2 separate regions of the Homo sapiens genome follow, and region 2 is linked to region 1. Evidence: fine-mapped expression QTL. A gene starts in region 1. The other region holds a variant in brackets. All regions are shown on one strand. Distances are from middle to middle. Region 1 holds the start of KAZN (kazrin, periplakin interacting protein). Region 2 overlaps KAZN (kazrin, periplakin interacting protein).

Region 1 (5,376 bases):
AAAAAAGAAAGGTAGACCTTTTTGGTTTAAATCAAGTATACCCGCAGAGGCTAATTGATTGCAGACTTTCTATCTAAGATCTAGTCCTTTGGTGTGTGGGTGAACATAAGGACACACAACTGGAAAAAGCCCCTTTTTTTCATGTTAGGAAAAAAAACTCTCAAAAAATAAAATTCTTAAAATCCTAGGAGGCACCCCAGGAGTTTCTAAAGCAGCTTCTTGAAACCTCAAAAATAGAGGGATGAGAAGGGGCTCAAGGAATGAGTCTTTTCTTTTCTCCTTATTAGATTTTTTTGTTTTGATTTGATTTGAAGATTCCGGTGTGTGGGAATAATCTCACTGAAGAGCAAAATGAGTAACACTGGGTCACTTTGTTTACTACACAAACACACTCACACGCATTCATTTACAGAACACTTACTACGGGCTAGGGCGGCAAGGACGCAAAGATGAATGACATAAAAAGCCGGATAACCCTCCTTCCCCCACCCACAAGTTCCCAGTGAAGTGGGAGAGAGACATATAAACAGATAAATTACTGTTTCTTCTGCTGAGTGCTATACCAGAGGTGTGAGTGCACGCACACGTGTGCGCACACACACACACACACACACACACACACGGCCCTCTAAATAGAGCTACTCTTAACTGTTTGCTCAGAAGCCCTAGTTCCAAAACATTCCCATCCTCTCTATTTGTGTATTTGCATATATGACTTTTTGATTGAGGTAAAATTTACATAACATGAAATTAAGCCCTTTAAAGTGAACAATTCAATGGCACTTAGTACATTCACCGTGTTGTGCCACCACCACCTCTGTCTAGTTCTAAAACATTTTCATCAGTCAGCACAAAGTAACACCCGGCACCTATTAAGCAGTTACTTCTCATTCTTCCCTCCCCACAGCCCCTGACAAACACCAATCTGCTTCCTGTTTCATGGATTTATTTATTCTGGATATTTCATATAAATTGAATCGTATAATATGTGACCTTCTATGTCGGGCTTCTTTCAACTAACATAATGTTTTGGAGCTTCATCCACGTAGTAGTAGCATGTATCAGTACTCTTCACGGCTGAGTAATATTCCATTGCATACTGCAATTTGTTCATCCAATCATCTGTTGATGGACATTTGGGTTATTTCTGCCTTCTGGCTACTAATGAACAGTGCTGCTATGAACATTCATGTACAAATTTTTGTTTGGATATTTGTTTTGGACATATACCTAGGAGTGGATTTGCTGGGTCGTATGGTAATCCTATGTTTAACTGTTCAAGGAACTGCTAATATGTTTTCCACAATGGCTGCACCACGGCATCCCCCTTTTCAAGACCCACACAGCTCTGTAGTTTTGATGCTCTCCCCATAACGTAACTGAAAGACTGCAAAGAACTGAATCCTGGTTTGCAGATACACTAAGCAGTTCTAAGTGCCTTGGTTGGTCCAGTTGGTAAGAACTTGTGTTAATGAGGTTAAGGTCAGGGTTCGATCCCCGAACTGACCCATTAGCTGAGCAGAGCGGACAGAGTGAAGAATTGTGTCTTCCTGCCACATGCTCCACCATCAAATCCTGCCCTCTTGCAAAAGCTTGTTAGTGGTCACAGGGGAATGGAGCAAGACTGTTTTTATGGTTCCACAGAAAAGGGGGGAGAAATCTATCATCCAAGGCCTCCTGAAGGCGCAGCAGGAGGAACTTGCAATCAGATGATTACTTTCTTCCAGTCCCGCTGTCACCTGGTTTCTGCGGGCCCCTTAAGTAAATTGCTTAACCCTATGCAGAGCCTCAGTTTCCTTATCCCTAAAATGGGAATAATAATCCTCACTCACAAGAGATAAGAATGCATATAAAAGCACTCTACACGCAGTTTTTGCTTGGTTCTTATGGGCTTCCTGTAAGAACCTGAAGGGTGGGCAGCCTCATTTTTCCTCGCAGCACCCCACTGGCTTCTGCAATCTGCTCTTTGCTGCTCTCCGGAGGTTGACTGAGCTGGAATGATGGCGCCCTGTTGACCAGAGGGTTGCTGGCTGTTTTAAATTGTCCTATTTGCATGGAATGAAGTTTGCTATGGTAACAAGGTCTGGTGGCTGGAATCCAGGGCCCCAGTGAAAAATGCAAAGCCTGTGGTCTGGGAGAGAAAGAGGAGCTGGAGAGGGCATATCAACGTCAGGTTACCTCAGTTCTTCTGTGAAGAGGGGATGGGTAAACTGAGGCAGCAGGGCTCAACTCTTCTGCTCCCAGTAGAAGAAAGGGAAGAAGCCCCATCGACGCCTTCCTTCTTATCTCTCAACCTCATCTCTGTCCCCGCCAATATTCAGCCCGGCTAAGAAGCTTAGGAGCTGGCTAAGGCTGCTCCTCCACCTGGATGCACACACAGGGCTAGGGCTGTGGAGAGGCGGGAGCACCAGCGGCCCACGCCGAGGAAGATAGGCGCTCCCTCCTGGGGTGGGCAGCGCAGGTCTGGCCTGCGGGTGGGGGGTGGAGAGTGAGAGGCACGCGGGGCACCAGCTCAGCTCCCCTCTGGGGATTTCGTACTCGCAGTTTAAGGAACCGGTGGAGCACGAACTCCACTCCTGAGCTGGCGCAAGCGTCTCCCTTCCATGGAGATCCACCCCGGCTCCCCTCTGAGGCCCCCTTTCCAAGCACCCTCTCTTCCGAGCACCCAGCACCTCCCCAACCTTAGCACGGCTCGGGGCACCAGTTCTCCAGGGCGGGGGCTGCCCCACCGCTCAAGGGAGGGGACAGAGGGCCGGCCTCGGTCCAGGCGACCCCTGCCCCTCGCCAGGGGCGCCACCTTGGCCCCCTCCCGACTGCCGTCCGCCGCCTCCGCCCCCCCGGGGGGTGTGTCTCCGAAGTACGGGGGCGCGGGAGGCCAAGGGTGCCCCCAGCCTCCGACCGAGACCCCCTCCCGAGCCGGCGGCGAATGGTAGGCTCCATTTAAAGAGTGCCTGGTGGCGCGCGGTGTCCTTCTTGGAGCAGCTCTCGGCGCCCGCCCGCCGGGGTCTCGGCGATCGCTGCTCCTCCTCCTCCTTCTCCTCCTCTTTTTTCTCCTCCGCCTCCTCCCCCCGCCGCCTCGCCACCGCCGCGGCTAGGGCTGGAGGCGCCGCTGTCATTCCTGTGCCGGAGGAACCGGCGCTGCCGGTGCCTGGGGGTCGGGGCGCGGGCGAAGCCGGGCCGCGGAGGACACAACAGGTAGAGCCGGGGGTGCCCGGCCGCGCGCCCCCCGCGCATCATGCAGCTCTTTGTCACCTCTCTCGCCCCCAGGCCAAAATCCTGAGCATGATGGAAGACAATAAGCAGCTCGCGCTCCGCATCGATGGGGCGGTCCAGTCGGCCAGCCAGGAGGTGACCAACCTGCGAGCCGAACTCACGGCCACCAACCGGAGACTGGCGGAACTGAGCGGCGGCGGCGGCCCCGGCCCGGGCCCGGGAGCCGCGGCCAGCGCCTCGGCGGCGGGGGACTCGGCGGCGACGAACATGGAGAACCCCCAGCTTGGAGCGCAAGGTAGGATCGCCCCGGCGCCCAGGGCGGAGGAAGGCGAGCAGAGCACGCCCGGCCTCGGAGGTGGCCGGGGACCCGGGGTCCCCCACACCCGGGGCGAAATCGCTTTGCATTCTGGCTTGTAACCCTTTCCGCCCGGCGGTGGCCACCGCTGCTCTCCGGCTGGGAGTTGCAGGCTGCTGTCATTCACGAAAACCCGAGCGCAGTGTGCACGGGGTCACACGGTCACACCGGCCCCGGCCAGCCTGAGCGAGGCGCAGCCGGCGGGTCCCTTCCGGCATCAGAAAGTGCCCTTTCCGTGGCACCAGCCCCCTAGCTCCGTGCAAACTTTTCATGCCGGGGCCTTTTCCCCACCCCCCGCAGGGGTGAATGGCACAGTTCCCCCCACTTCCTTAGGCTCCTTCCCAGAGAGAGCTCCGGGCTCTGCCGCCGTGGTTGGGATAGAGGATTGCACTGCTGTGCACTTTTCTCCGCGGATGCCAAATCCCTTGGCTCAGTTGCATCTGGACTTTATTTTCTTCTCATTTGAGGTCTCTCAGGCATTGGAATCTATAGATGCAACAGTAGATGCTCAGCTCAGCAGGGAGTTTAAATTTCCGCAAATATAAACACCGAGAGCACTTTCCAGGGGGATACTGTAGACCTCAAAGGTTGAGCGGTAGAGAAATGAAGGCTTAGGGTGGTGGGCTGCAGGGAGCCCGTTTGAAGGGACTCTGCGGTTTAGAGAAGAGGAAGAAAAAGACAGTTGGTTTGTGTTCACATTGACAGAGATTAAGCTCTGAAACCCCCTGCAAGACATAAAGGCGGATGGGGCATTCCCTAAAATGTACTGTTTGGTTTCTGTGACTTAGAAAGTAAAAGGGTAAGCAGGCTTTGGGGGATTTTTTTTTTCTTTTTGCCTAATTGCCCTTTAAGAAACAGTATCACTGGTTATTAATATCATTTGAATTGCAAATTAAACTGCTGAAATCCAGAACAGGACAGAAACAAATCTCCAGTCCATGAGGTCCACTTGTCTAAATATGTCACTTGAAGTGCAAGGTACCAATTGCTCAGTGGCTCAAAATGATTTTCTGGTTCTGTTGTCATTTCAAGAGCTTCTCTTGAGGGTTGAGAGAGTCTGTTTTCCTAAGAATCTGGTTCTCTCCATCAGTCTCTGTTTCCACCTTATCTTCCTGGGAAGGTGTGCTTTCTTTGAGGTGAGATGTGAAGCCTGCCCACGTGCAGTTTTATGTCGAATTCCAAGTCAGATCTTAACTTGGTACTCCCGGAGCCTGTTGGAAGTCTTAGGAATTGGGGGGAGTACTTTGGTAAGGAAGTAGCCATGACGTAATGGTGAGAAGGTGTTGTGGTCCTAGTGCTTGCTGCAAGCTTGACATGTGGTTATTCTTGTCATCCTTGCAATGTCATTGTGTGCGAAAGAACATTCTCCACTGGAACCTGTGCAAAAAAAAAAAAAAAAAAAAAAGACAGACTGCAAGGTAATGCTTCACTTTTTATAGGCAGAGGCTCTGCTAACATTAAAGAAATAGCTAAGAACTGGCATTTTGCTAAGAATCAAAAGCTGTATAGTAAAGGACACTGAACAATGCTCGTTTATTTCCCACTGTCTGCCCCTTTCTCCGCGAAGGAAAAGTTAAGTGGCTTTTTATCTGAGTCCTGGGTCTGGTTGTAGACTGGGCAGGCTAAGGCAGTCAACGCAGTAATGATGTCCACATGCTCAACTTGAAAACTGACATACTCGCGGATGGTTAAATTGTTGTAGTGGAGCAACAGGGGGCTGATTCCTTGTTCTTTTTTCCTACACAAATGCACAGGGCTGTGGAAATGAAAATGGCTTTTGGATCTCTTGGATATCCTTAAAAACACAT
Region 2 (5,376 bases), 270 kb after region 1:
TTTTGCAGTGGCTGCGAGGAGCAGGTTTAATTAGCGCACAGACCTGCTGGAAAAATCCAGTGTTATTAAAAGCCTTGTTCCATGTGGTGGCTGCTGGGTTGTACCGGTCTCCTGCCCTCAGCCCCTTCCTTCCTGAAGCCACCCAACACCCACCCCGGCATTACTTTGCCATTAATCCCAAGGTATCCGGGGAAAAATGACAGAGAGGTAAGAAAAATCACATGGAAGGTAGAATGTCCAGATTTTTCCCCAATGAGATGAAAAACTCAGGGTCTCATCTCTGTGGAAAATCCCAGTATCTGTCCAGGAGCACTGGGCCTGGCCTTGACCTTGGCTTTGACCTTCAGACGACTGCTGGGGAGATTCCTTGAACATGGAGTCTAGGGCCTGGATACTGGGAAAAATCAGACCCTTCTACTCAAAACCAAAAGACCACAGGCTTTGGAGTTAAGACAGGGTGAAGGGTGAGTCCCAGCTCTGCTCCTCACTTGCTGTGTGACTTTGAACAAATGGCTTAACTTCTCTGGCCCTGTTTCCTCAACTGTTTTTTGTTTTTTGTGTGTTTGTATTGAGACAGAGTTTTGCTCTGTCGCCCAGGCTGGAGTGCAATGGCACAATCTTGGCTCATTGCAACCTCCACCTCCTGGGTACGAGTGATTCTCCCACCTCAGCCTCCAAGTAGCTGGGATTACAGGCATGCACTACCACACTGGCTAATTTTTGTATTTTTAGTAGAGACGCGGTTTCTCCATGTTGGCCAGGCTACTCTCAAACTCCTGACCTCAAGTGATCTGCCCACCTTGGCTTCCCAAAGTGCTGGGATTACAGGTGTGAGCCCCCAGGCCCGGTTTTCCTCATCTGTTAAATGGGGTTCACGACCGTGACTCCCTCATGAGCTGCTGTGATGCTTCATGAGATGAGGAGCTTCACATCTGGCACAATTAATGGCCCATGGTCAGCTCTCAATCGGGGGCATTTGTTGTGAAGGTTGTGTGGCACTATGTGTCACTGTGGCCACACTGTTCTCATTATTACATATATGAATCTTACTCCACAACCAAGTGTGCAAGAAATCTCACCAGGCCCAACCCTACCAGAATGATAAGAAATTAAGACTCATCATATGAATGGCCGCCTCCACACCTGCCTGGGGTCACACAATAACCCAGAAGGCTTGTCTGATATCTGGAGAATGAGGAAGGGGCCTGGAGGCTTCCATCCTCCATGGTCTCAGCTCACCTGTTCTTTGTCCAGGCCCACCTGATCTCCAAGAGGTGGACAGTGCTGTTGCCTGAGCCCAGGTGTGTCTTCAGTGAAGTCAGAAGCTCCAGTGTTCAAGGTCCAGACCCTCCACCACCACACGGCACCTATGTGCCCTCTTTAGTCCTGCACCTCCTCACGATGCTGGAACAGTCCAGGCACAGTTGTCCTGCAGACCTCTCCTTCCTAGGTTTGGGGAATTGCCCAATCAGCTCTCTTCTAGAATGTTCCACAGCCTCTTCCCCAATTCCTTCCATGAACCTTCTGCTTGAGGAACAAGAGTCAAGAGGGAGGTTTGCTTCCTGGTAAAGCTCTGGTTTCCTTTTGCATACAAATTGCCCTGCAGCAAGGGAGCTGGAGGATGGGCTTCCTCTTCGAATAGGAATGGGAAACTGGGGAAAAGTGTACAAGTCGCTCTGGTCTGGGATTTTACAAACACAAATTATTATCTCCATAGGGCGTGCCACACCATTATTATCAGTGCATCTGCAACAGGGGAGGCGTAAGGAAGATGCTTTCTGTGCATCTGACCCCCAACTCCCACAGCCTGAACTAAAAATATCACCTGCAGTGAGCCTGAGACATCTACATGAGCAGCAGTGTGTGTGTGTGTGTGTGTGTGTGTGTGTGTGCACCTGCATCTCTGTGTCTTGATGCTGTGTGGTGTTAATTCTTTGACTGCATTCATTCACCAAGGCCTGAAGGCATAGTATCCTGATTGACCAGATCTGAGTCACAGGCTCACATGCTGACCCTTGGAATCAGAGTGGGGTCAGCCCCACGTGAGTCTCAGTGTCATGGACTCAGAGTAGGGGAGAGAAAGGTGACCCGGGAGAATGGGGGTGTTTAGAGGGGGTGGGCCAGGAGGAAATCAGGAGCTCAGTCTGGAGCATGCTAGGCTGGAGATGTCTGTTAATCATCTGGGAGCTACCAGAAGAAGGGGGCATGAATATGCGCAGACAGCAAGGCAAGAGGCTATTGCTGGCAGATAAACATCTAAATTCCTGCACTCCTGTATCAGAAGCTGAATTAGGGTGCAAGCGTGTGGGCACCAGTCCCTTAAATTACCCTTCTTTGGAAGGAATAATGGACTTGGAGTCAGAAGACTAGATTTCAAGACTAGCCTCTGCTTCATACTGACTGGGGGACTTCTCTGGGTTTGTTTTCTTGTCTGCAAAATGGGATATAATAAACTACTACTTTAGGGTGGTTATGGAGCAGTGCTGTCTGATAGAACTTCCTAGAACTTTCTATTTAATATGGTAGCCACTGGCCACATGTGGATATTAAGCAATTAACATATAGCTAGTGTGACTAAGGAACTGAATTTTTTATTTTATTTAATTTCAATGAATTTAAATTCAAACAGCCACATATGGCTAACAGCAACCATATTGTACAGTGCAGTTTTAGATTATTCAATTGGATCATTACAGTTTGCTTTGTAAACTGTGAAGTGCTATAAGGGAATATTCATTGCATCCCTTAATTGAAAGCTCCAATGATGAAGCCAGGTACTGTGTGAATAAGTCTTGCTCATGCTCATAATTATTGTAACCACTGATCTAAGTGGGGCCTGAAATCCTTAAAATGGTCTTATTTCTGGACATCTCCCTTCACATTTGAAGGATTAATATAATGGATCTCTCATGAACCTATACAGAATCCCAGTAAGAAATTATTGCATGGATGGATGGTTCGATGGATGGATGGACAAGTGGACAGATGAATGGATAGGTGGATGGATGGATGGACGTACAGATGGATGGGTGGAAGGACAAATGGATGGATGTACAGACGGATACATAGATGAATAGATGGGTGGATGGATGGGTGAATGGATATATGGATAAATGGATGGTTGGGTGGATGGATGGATGGATGGATAGATGGATGGATGGATGGATGGATGGATGGAAAGATGAGTAGAAGAACATATAGAAGGATACATGGATGGATGGATGGATGGATGGGTGGGTGGATAGATAGATGAATCGGTGGGTGGATGGATGGATGGGTGGATGGATGGATGGATGGAAGGATGGATGGATGGACAGATAGATGAATGGATGGGTGGATGGATGGATGGATGGAAGG[A/G]TGGATGGATGGACAGATAGATGAATGGATGGGTGGATGGATTCATCCATTCATTCCTTCTGTCACCTGCTATGCACTAGGCATTATTCAAGTAGTTAGGGATAGAATAATAACACAGACAAAGCTCCTGCTTTCAGAAAGACTGTATTCTAAAGGGGAGAGTCAGATGTTCAAGAAGAAAACAAATAGCATAAAGAATTTCTAGTAGCAGTAAGCACTATGAAGGAAAATAAAGTGGGGAAGAGGGATGCAGAATAATGGGGCTGCTGTTTCACATAGGGTGGTCTCTTTGGTAAAGCAGCATTTGAGAAAGCCTTGAGGGAAGGGAGGAAGTGAGCTATGCAGAGATCTGAGGGAAAAGCAGAGAGAACAGAAGAAGGCTAGCATGGCTAAACCAGAGTGTGGGAGGAGAGGAAATGTAAAAGGAGAGGAGGTCAGAGGGAGCCAGGGGCCTTTCAGGCTTTTGGAAGACTTTGCTTTCCTCTCAGTGAAATGAGAAGCCAGTGGTGGGCTTTGAGAAGAGGAGGGATTGGATCTGACATATATTTATGTTGTGTTGAAAATAGACTCTAGGGAGGAAAGGCAGGTGCCGGAGACAAATAAGGAAGCTACTGCAATCATCTAGGCATGAGTTTGTGGTGGCTGGGACCAGGGAGAGAGCAGTGCAAAGTGGGGCAAAGTGGCGAGATTCAGTATCTAGTTCAAAGGTAGAGCCAGCAGAACTGACGTGGTGGATGTGGTGGGTAGGAGAAAAAGGAGAAGTCCAGAATGATTCCAGAGATGCACCCTTGAGTAACTGGAAGGAAAGCACTTGTCATTTCTTGAAATAGAGAAGACAGGGGCAGGAGCGAGTTTAGAGGGGGTGGGCCAGGAGGAAATCAGGAGCTCAGTTTGGAGTATGCTAGGTTAGAGATGTCTATTAATCATCTGAGAGTTGACTGTCCAAATTTCAAGGGAGAGGACAGGGCTGGTCATATCCATTTGGGAATCATCAGCATATACAGATGATATTTAAAGCCACGATACCAGACAAGTGAGTACAGATAGAGAATCCAAGGATTGAGCTCTGGAGTCCTCCAACATTTGGAGGTCGGAAGGGGGAAGAGGATCCAACAAAGGCTACTGAAAAGGAACAGCTGGTGAGGTAGGAAGAAACCAGTAGAGAAGTGACATGTGTCCGGAAGAGAGTGTTCAACTGTTAGATGCTGCTGACAGATTAAGTAAGAGGGGCTGGAAAGGTGACCACTGGATTTAATAATGTCATTGGTGACCTTGAGTTGTTTCAGAGGAATGGTGGCATGAATCGCTAGCTAGCTGGCTGACTGGATGGATGGATGGATGGATGGATGGATGGATGGATGGATGGATGGATGGACAGATGGATGGAAGGCTAACTTAACTACTGCAGCTAACTTAACTACTGCAGGTAACTGCACCATCTTGTCACCTGTGACAGCAATTAAGCAACTGTTGCCTGACACTCCGTGTGCCAGAACCAAAAGCTGTCAAAACCAATCTCCTTCTCCATTCACCCAACTTTTTGGATCCAGCCCAGAAATCCTGGTGTGACCTGTGTTTGCTATAAGATGAGAATCTTGACATCTTCTGGTTTGATTATCCTTCTCTGGATTACCCATAATGCTCTTGGTCGAATGTTTCCCCTTTTAAGGTTTGAGAAGGGAAAGGAAAGGAAGAAAATGAGAGGAAAAAAAACTAACTCTGGGATCCTAGACTTACTTGGTTTTGTATTTCCATTTGCCAAACTGATGCTTTGCCAAATCTCCCTTCCTTTCTGGAAGAGCAGATTTGCGCAGCCACCTACCTCTGCAAGTGGGGGTCCCTGGAGATTCCTCCATGTTAAAGCCAAATGAGGAAAGGTCTCAGATATATCTGTAAATTTGTGGCCAGGTGCGGTGGCTCACACCTGTAATCCCAGCACTTTGGGAGGCTGAGGCAAGCAGATCACCTGAGATTGGGAGTTCAAGACCAGCCTGACCAACATGGAGAAACCCCGTCTCT

The links.
Region 2: its variant is fine-mapped to the expression of KAZN in whole blood (INTERVAL, PIP above 0.99).

What each region holds. Positions count from the first base shown.
Region 1 is chr1:14,595,716-14,601,091 of GRCh38, forward strand. KAZN (kazrin, periplakin interacting protein) reads left to right here and starts at 2,970. Exons shown (of 15, transcript NM_201628.3): 1 at 2,970-3,508. The coding sequence starts at 3,283. RefSeq lists a silencer at 3,637-3,796.
Region 2 is chr1:14,869,791-14,875,166 of GRCh38, forward strand. The region is part of intron 1 of KAZN (kazrin, periplakin interacting protein); the gene reads left to right. Among named protein-coding and RNA genes, the nearest start is that of KAZN, 270 kb to the left of the region's middle. The variant A/G (reference allele first, on the strand shown) is at 3,358.